2 linked regions of the Homo sapiens genome follow. The protein of the gene in region 1 purifies or fractionates together with the protein of each later gene. This does not show direct contact. Each region holds a gene or a part of one and is shown on either strand. Other genes may lie near its edges. The genes, in order: MAT1A and NDUFS4.

The links.
Region 2: the proteins of MAT1A (region 1) and NDUFS4 fractionate together in Homo sapiens (co-fractionation; one large-scale study listed by BioGRID). This does not show direct contact.

Annotation. Positions count from the first base shown.
Region 1 is NC_000010.11:80,286,695-80,291,284, reverse strand, and holds the start of MAT1A (S-adenosylmethionine synthase), read left to right. Parts: upstream 1-1,626; 5' UTR 1,627-1,861; coding exon 1,862-1,952; intron 1,953-4,590. UniProt on the Homo sapiens protein: Catalyzes the formation of S-adenosylmethionine from methionine and ATP. The reaction comprises two steps that are both catalyzed by the same enzyme: formation of S-adenosylmethionine (AdoMet) and triphosphate, and subsequent hydrolysis of the triphosphate.
Region 2 is NC_000005.10:53,567,048-53,570,864, forward strand, and holds part of NDUFS4 (NADH dehydrogenase [ubiquinone] iron-sulfur protein 4, mitochondrial isoform 1 precursor), read left to right. Parts: intron 1-3,817. UniProt on the Homo sapiens protein: Accessory subunit of the mitochondrial membrane respiratory chain NADH dehydrogenase (Complex I), that is believed not to be involved in catalysis. Complex I functions in the transfer of electrons from NADH to the respiratory chain.

The sequences.
Region 1 (4,590 bases):
TCTAGGAACCTTGAAGAGTACCTGCTACTTACACATCATCTTGTTCTTAAATCAAATTTGGACCATAATTGTTATCATACAATTTTAACTGCTAAGGTCACCTAGTTCTACAGTTCAAATTAAACATTAGCTCATATTGCCTCTAGGTTTAAAACTAATGTACCCAGAAGAAATTTACTAAGGGCCAGCAATGTTGAAATAGCTTAAGTGCAAACAGAGGAGTCCTGTGTGCTGGCAATGACAAGGCGATGTTGTCTAAAGTCCCTATTTGATTCCTCGTTTGTCCATCCCTTCCCAGTGGCCTTTTCCTCTCTGAACTTTCAACAGTCTTGTGCCTAAGCACTTCAGTTCACTCCTTGTTAAATGCCGTTGATTGGCTATGCATATGTAACATCCCTTACTTTATTCCAGAAGAGGTCACCTTAATACTGCTTTAATTCCCTGAAGGGATGATGTTTGGTCATCAGTTAGCAAAACTCAAGCTTTGGAGCACCAGAATGTGTGCCAGAAAAAATTTTTCCAAATGCTTGATAATAAACTCAGAGGGGGGTTTGGTCACCAGAATTGTTAGGTGAGGCTATTGCTTCCTAACTTTTGCTTCCCACAGTCCAAGCTTTGATGCACAAGGTTATGGTTGATTACTTTTTATTGCATTCTAGTGGGAACTGGTTTCTCCACCCATCCTCATTTTCTGTGGTCTCAATTCCCCATTGTTCCTTGGGTCTGAGGATGCAGCTGGATCTGAGAGTGTGAGACGCTGTCATTTAGTACATGAACTAAAGATATAATCCTGTTTACTACTTTTTTTGGTCAAAGCAAAAAATAATGCAAGAGTTATGTGAACACGATGTTTATTACATGTATAGAACTGAATATGTAGATGTTTATAATCCGGAAGCTTTGGGAAACTGGACTTTGATAATTTCCCTGTAATGAATCCATTTCTCAAAAGCATTTTTTTCTAAAAAAAACACACACACACACACACACACACACACATTGTTCTCTGTAACCTCCCCAGATAGATACTTTTTAAAGATCTTGCTTGTTAAAATGCCTGCCAGCCTTTTAGAGAAGTTGACAGGTTAGGTGGTTTCTGTTAGCAGAAACACGTGGACTCAAAGCTTTTCCTCTAAAATGAATCTGTTGTGTAACATCACAGCTGGCTCAGAATACAGGTGCGTGCTCCTGCTCTCCCTGAGAAGATAGAATGGGAAGAGACCAATCCAGATGAGACGCAGGGGAGGAGGGGACACCCAACAGCAAAGGCACTGTTGCAATCTTAGCCTAAACCATATCTCTGAGAAAGAGTTTCTTGTTGCCTGCTTGTATCTCTGGGTGATCACAGACCCCTGCTCTCCAAGGTGGGTTGTGAACTCTGGAGCACTACCAAGATTGGCTAAGAGCTGAAGGAGAGTCCCAAAGGAGCTTCAATTCTGCAGAACTATACAGCCTTCTTTACCTTACCTTGACCAGGTGCTTAGAGTTTGGAAAGTCAGGGATAAGAATTGAAATTCCTCCAGGTAAGAAGACCCCCCTCTTAGGAAATGGACTCCTCCAATTTTCTCACATGATTTTTCAGGCACTTTCGCTTTTCCATATATAGGAGTCGCTCAGGAGCAAGCTGTGGCAAGCTGGAGGGAGGGACACATCCCGTGTTCCATCCACTCCCTCCCTTCTCAGCAGTCCTCGCCTGTTCTCACGTGCTCACAGGCAGTTAGGCAGAAGTGATCCCCGTGGCTCTGCCAAAGACAAGCCTGTTGGGTTGAAAGAAGAAGAAGAAGAAGAAAAAAAAACTCAGGCAAAGTCACAGCCTCAAAATTGTTCACTGAAAGAAGCGTGAGTGGAGAAGTGTGAGAAGATGAATGGACCGGTGGATGGCTTGTGTGACCACTCTCTAAGTGAAGGAGTCTTCATGTTCACATCGGAGTCTGTGGGAGAGGGACACCCGGGTAAGTAGGCTGTCTTGGACTGACTGGAAAACGATCATTCCAAGCCTATACTGAGGGAGTCACTTACAAATGGTTTTAATTTGACACATAATAATTGTGCATATTTATGGGGTACCGTGTGTTGTTTTGATCCATGAGTATAACATTTAATGATCAAATTAGGATAATGGGCATACCCATTGCCACAGACATTGACTACTTCTTTGTGGTGAAAACATTCAAAATTCCCTCTTCTAGCCCTTCAGTCACCCTACTGCGCAATGGAATGCCAGAGCTCATTCCTCCTATCTGACTGTAACTTCGTACCTGTAGGAGTCACTTTTACCAGAGCTCTTCAGAGCAATGTGTGTGAGTTACCAGAAGGGATCTCTAGAGAAACAGCATGGAGTAGTTTCATAAAACAGTCCCTCCTGATGAAGCCGTGCTGTGGCCCACCACCAGCACGCCAGCACAGTGGGTCCAAGACAGGGAGTAGCAGCTGGCTGGCTAAGAGTATGACACATGCAAAATATATGATCAGGTCTTAACTTTTTATATGTATTTTTTTTTTAGGAAAGCTTTAATCTATTATCCATGGCCAATTTAAGTCAACAGGGAATGTTCCTGAAACAAGACCATGGGTGACTAAATTTTGCATGTGAAGCATGTGCAACTTAGGCATGAAAGCCTGCACCCTGGTCACTGCTGGGGTAGACCTCTAGGTGCTGGGGACTCAGTAACGTTCTCTAAGAGCAGAATAGAAGACCTTCTAAACAGGAAGAAAATTTAGGCATTGATTTTGGTCCCTGAAAAGTAGGTAGACTGTGATGTGCGGAAGTGAGAGAAGCTTCCTTGATGACGGTGAGAACTAGGACCAGGACATTCAGAGCCTCAAGTGTAGGACAGTGGTTCTCAAACTTCAGGGAGCTTCAGAATCCCCCAGAGGGCTTGTCAAGACAACAGAGGGCTGGGCCCCACCCTCCAGAGTTTCTGATTCAGTAGGTCTTGGGAGAGGCTCGAGAATTTGCATTTTTGACAAGTTCCCAGGAGATGCTGATGCTCTGGGGTGAGAACCACTGCTCTTGGAGACCCCTGGGGGATAGATGTACAGACTTCTATAGTTAAGTCCCTCTTCAAAATTCATTCGAGTGTTTGCTAACTTATTGCCAAGTCTGCCTTTTTCCATCTTCCTTGCTCTTGTTCTTCCTCAAAGATATTTATCTTTCCTACCTTGTAACTTGGCTTTGGACACCTCAGTGCACTACTCCTTCCATATACTTTAGCCAGTGGTTTTTGACTGGTGGCAGTTTTGCCCCACAACCCCCAAGAGCATTTTGTACTGTCTGGAGACATTTGCAGTTATCACAACTATAGGAGGTGGGGGTAAGGTGCTACTGCCATGTATTGAGTAGAGGTCAGGCACACTGCTAAGCATCCTACAGTGCACAGGACAGCCTCTCAAGAATTATCTGGCCCAAAATGTTAATAGTGCAGCTGTTGAAAAACCTTGAATTGAATTGAGTTTTTTATGTGACTTAGCTCAGTTCAATGTAAATAGCCTCTTTCATTGTGCATAACTGTATAAAGTATCTAGGTTTACTGTATTTTCAATCTCAGATACATTGCTGATTTCTGACACATTCTGATCAGCTCCATGGCTATGAGCCTCATGTATAGGTTAGGAGAAAGATTCACTCCACCCGGAGGAAGTGGGTTTTTTGGCATGCAGCGGCTAGTGGTCCCAAGAATGGTCCATTGTGCGCAGCAGCAATGTGCTCAGAGGACTGAGAATGAACGTGCCAGCCAATCAATTGATTGTTTTGTATACTTAATGACAGCCAATCAATTTGTCTAATCGTCCCTTGTACTTGCCATTGTAATTGTCCAGGTAAGTCAGTTTCCATGGAGGCTAGGTGACTTTCTGCTTGTCATTCCATTGCTGAATTCCTCTCTGCTAGAAAGATAAAGGTTTTCTTCTCTGGTTTTCCAAAAAAACAACTATTGGCTATCTTAAGCCTACTAAGTGATATTGATAAAAATTTTGAAAGCCAAAACAAAAACAAAAACAATTCAGAAACAACCTCCTTGGGCATTGTCTTGTGTGTGGTGCTATCTGGAAGCCCCTGCTGGACTCCAGCTTTGTTCCTTCTCCTGTTGGATTTCCCTAGGCAGAGTGGGAGCCTGTGAGCTGTGTCTGCACAGGCAGAGACATTCACAATCAATGATCAGTCAGCAAGCTTCTAGGAACTCTGATGGGTAAGCCTAAGGTGGCCAGCATGTATTTATTTTAGGATATTTTATCAGCGAGAGGCCTTCAGTGGTAGAAGTGTGTAGAGGCTAAGGGCTCAGACAAACCTAAAGGTACTACCAGGGTCTGCCACTGGCAGGAGGCTAGATTAAACAAACAAACAAACAAACAAAACACAACCTCAAACATATGTTTAGCAGTAGTTTCTAAAGGAAAGATTAAGGAATTAATGAATATCTTTAATTACAGAATTTAACATCTGCTTTTGAGAGCCAAACTGCTTGATTCTGGATCTGGATTCTTAACAAAAACATATTACTCTATTAAGAGCAGACTGTGGGTATTTTTAACACTGAATGAGCTATAATATATGTAGATAGAGATCACTTTTATTTCTTAATTTGTAGATAT
Region 2 (3,817 bases), on another chromosome or scaffold:
ACCATGTTGGTCAGGCTGGTCTCAAACTCCTGACCTCGTGATCCACCTGCCTCGACCTCCCAAAGTGCTGGAATTACAGGCGTGAGCCACTGAGCCCAGCACCCCTTAATATTTTAAATCTGAGGTTGGTTGAATTATGATGTGGAACCCACAGATGCAGAGGGTTGACTGTAGTCTGATATAGCAGTCTAAATGAATATGTTCACTTTTGCAGTGAGGAATATTATGTCTGGTAATAATCAGTTCAAACCCTAATGTCCTCTCTGTTTTTTCTGCCTTTTAGCCAAGTGTCTTCTTTATTTGAGAGACCATGGAATGCTCTTATCTTTACTGTTGCTGCATGGTTCCATTTGTACAGTGAGAGTTACCAAATGCACAATTAGTTGTTTACTTTTTTAAGCTAATGATTTTTTCCCCTAAATTTTGTAATTATTTTTGGTAAGGGACTTTTCATAGGTGACTTATTATACTTTTTTACGCTCTTAAAAAATATATATAACAAGATATACTGGACATTTTTTTTTTCTGTTTTCTTACTGATTCCAGTGATTAGGAAAAACGGTTGTATTGTGTTGTCTTTAAAAACGATTCAGTGTCTGCTATGCTTTCTGAGTTCTCGTGTCTGCTTTTTAATAGTGTTATATTCTTCCTTGACTGGTCTGCTTCCCTTTAGCAGTTTTAGCACCCCTTTTTCATTTATTATGGATTTGAATGTCAAGCAACTAAACCTATTAGAATTTTGTATAAAACAAAGTATGCTAAATGAAATTCTGATGATGGCAGAAGTTTACTTTTTATGATTAAAGACTTGAGCTCTTTTAAGGTTAACGAATAATTATATTTAATATATGAGCTCTTGTGACTTTTCTTTTCTAGCTTGTAGAAGTCCATAGATCCTGATGGAACCTTTTTGAACCTGAATTATGCAGTGACCACATTCTTCATAACAACTTTCATCTAAACATATGAATAATTTAATAAACTATTATAAATTTTTTCTTTTAATAACAGAGCAATTCAGAATTCTTGTTTCAAGTTCTATTTTGTTGTCTGTTACTAAGTATTTTGGTAGGTAAATATGACTTTAGGTTCTTTAGAACTAGTTAGTTGCTCAAAGGTAACCTTTTCTTCTTGTCTGTACTCACTAGACTTAATTTTTCTTTTATGGGCTCATTCTCCAGTTCACTGGTTTTTAAACCCTTGTGCATCAAAATTATCTGTTGGGTGCCTAAAAAATTCAGATGCCTTGCCCCCCAGTCTATATTGGTTCAGTAAGTTTAGGTTGAGGCTTAGCTCTATGGTGATTCTAATGGGAAGCTAGGGCTGAAAACGGATTAAAAAAAAAGTTTCCATATTATATCTTGTAAGACTTAGGAAATATATTTTTCCTTGGGAGAGAGTTCAGGGAGATTTCCAGAAACAAAAATTCTTCCATTTTTGCATATTTTTCTATTCTAAATTAAGTTTTATGCTTTTCACCCATGCACATAAGAGGTATTTTCTTGGGGAAAGTTTCCTTAGAGGGAAAAAAGGCATTTTGATAATTTTGGAGAAAGCAGGCCATATTACTCTCTCTCTAGAGACTCTTATTCTTCCTTTTGGAAGGGCTCAGGTTTAATATAGCACAGCTGTTGAACTCTGCCCTTCAAAATTTTAAGAAAGTGTTTTATCCTTTAAAATGGAAAAGGCTTTTTTAGGAAGGTGGTCTTTCACTGGATGTAGTTCTCTAAGAAAGTTTCATGCTTCTCTACTCTTTTGTGTTTGAATCGTTTCAAATGTTGAGAGAACTGTCTCTGGGAGTAAAATCTGGCTGCTTTTGCAATATATTTTCTGTATTCTTAAACAAAGCTATATGAAGAGTTTATTTCTTTGTGTTTTCTAGGACTCAAAAATATGTTTTTTCCTTTATTCAGCCACTTCACACATAAGTAAATGGTCCTTGAATAGGGCTTACTGGACAAAAGATTCTGTTCTAGATGACTGTTCAGCAAGCCATATGCTTCTCCTAAAAATGTCAGTCTGTCTTGATGAGCTTTAAAGTGAATACAGATGTTTTGGCTCTTTTGAGGACTACCACTCTTTGTATGGAAAGAGTACTTCTTTTTCAAGTGATCTCTTCAATATACTTACAGGAATTTGCATGAAATTTATGACTTTTGCCTTTTAAGTCTAATAAGATTAGACTTAGACATGTGTAATTTGAATTTAATTTTAATATTCGTAGTACAAATGAGATTTGGGGAATAAAATACATTTCATAATATGGCTTTTTGTTCAGATTTTGTATTCAACCTTTTAAAAAATGTGAAAGTGCTTTGTAATATTTACTTTTGTGCAATAAAAAGTGATATTTTGGCAGGCAAGGTTACCTTTTTAGATGTTCAGTGTCTTCTATCTTTGTAGGTTAACTCTGGAGTTATAGTTCATAGATTTATGTAATATTTAAGTTGGAAGAAAACTCTAGAATCATTAAGTCCAACCCTTTATTTAATGCAAGAATCCCTAGAACTTCCTGCTTCTTGATTATCTAGTTGTTGAGGAAGTTTGGTGACTTTCTGATAACCCCAGAAAACACACTATACGTTTAGACTTACTGGTAAGTGATGTTTTTCTTTGAAACTGTATAGAACAAGTTTAACCCCGTATACACTTGTCAGCCCTTCAGATAATTGAAGACATTTGTCATCACTCATTCTTCCTTCAAGTCTGTGCTCCAGGCTTAGCACGTCCAGTTTGTTTACTCTTTATTAATGATCAAATTTCCTGACGCTTTACTACCTCTTGGTACCCCTTAGGATGTTTTCCATTTTGTCAGTGTTGATCTTTGAACTATGTACTGTACTTTTATTTAAATGAGATTATCAGAGATGATAGTTTCATGAGCTGAGATTGAATTAAGGAAAAAAGTTGACTCTAGGTTGGATTTATTTTATATTATTTTTAAAATTATAAAGAAAAATTAACTGTTTTCCTTTTGGTGTATACTTCTTAGAGTTTTAACACATGTATGGGTTATGTGTAACCACCACCATAATCCTAGTACAGAATACAGTGTAATATGCAGATAACTGTTTTACTGTATTGTTTCAGGGTGCAGAATACCAAAAGACTTCATTACCCCAAGACTCCCTCATGTTATCCTTCCCTGACCGCTGTAATCCCTGTCCACAGTTATCTTTTTTCATCTTTATAGTTTTACAGTTTTGAGACTGTAATATAAATGTAGTCATATATAACCTTTTGAGATTGTCTTTTTTTATTCAGCCTGGTGCCTTTGAACTTCATATAAGTTTCATGTATCGACAGTTTGTTCCTTTTTACTGCTAAGTAGTATTCCGTTATGTGGAGGTACCACAGTTTATCCATTTACCTATTGAAGGACATATGAATTATTTCAGGTTTTTGGCAGTGTAAATAGAGCTTCTGTACAGGATTTTATGTGAATTATGATTTTGTTTCTCTAGAGTAAATACCTGGGTAGAAGATTCCTGGGTCATAGCTAAGTGTATGTTTAATTTTATAAGAAACTCTCAGACCGTTTTCCAGAGTGGTTGTACCATTTTGCTTTTCACCAGCACCATATGAAAGTTTTAGTTGTTTTGCATCCTTGTTAACATTTGTATTGTATTTTTTTTTCTTTTTTTTTTTTTTTTTGAGACAGAGTCTTGCTCTGTCACCCAGGCTGGAGTGCAGTGGCACGATCTTGGCTCACTGCAAGCTCCGCCTCCCAGGTTCAAGTGATTGTCCTGCCTCAGCCTCCTGAGTAGCTGGTATTACAGGTGCATGCCACCATGCCCGGCTAATTTTTGTATTTTTA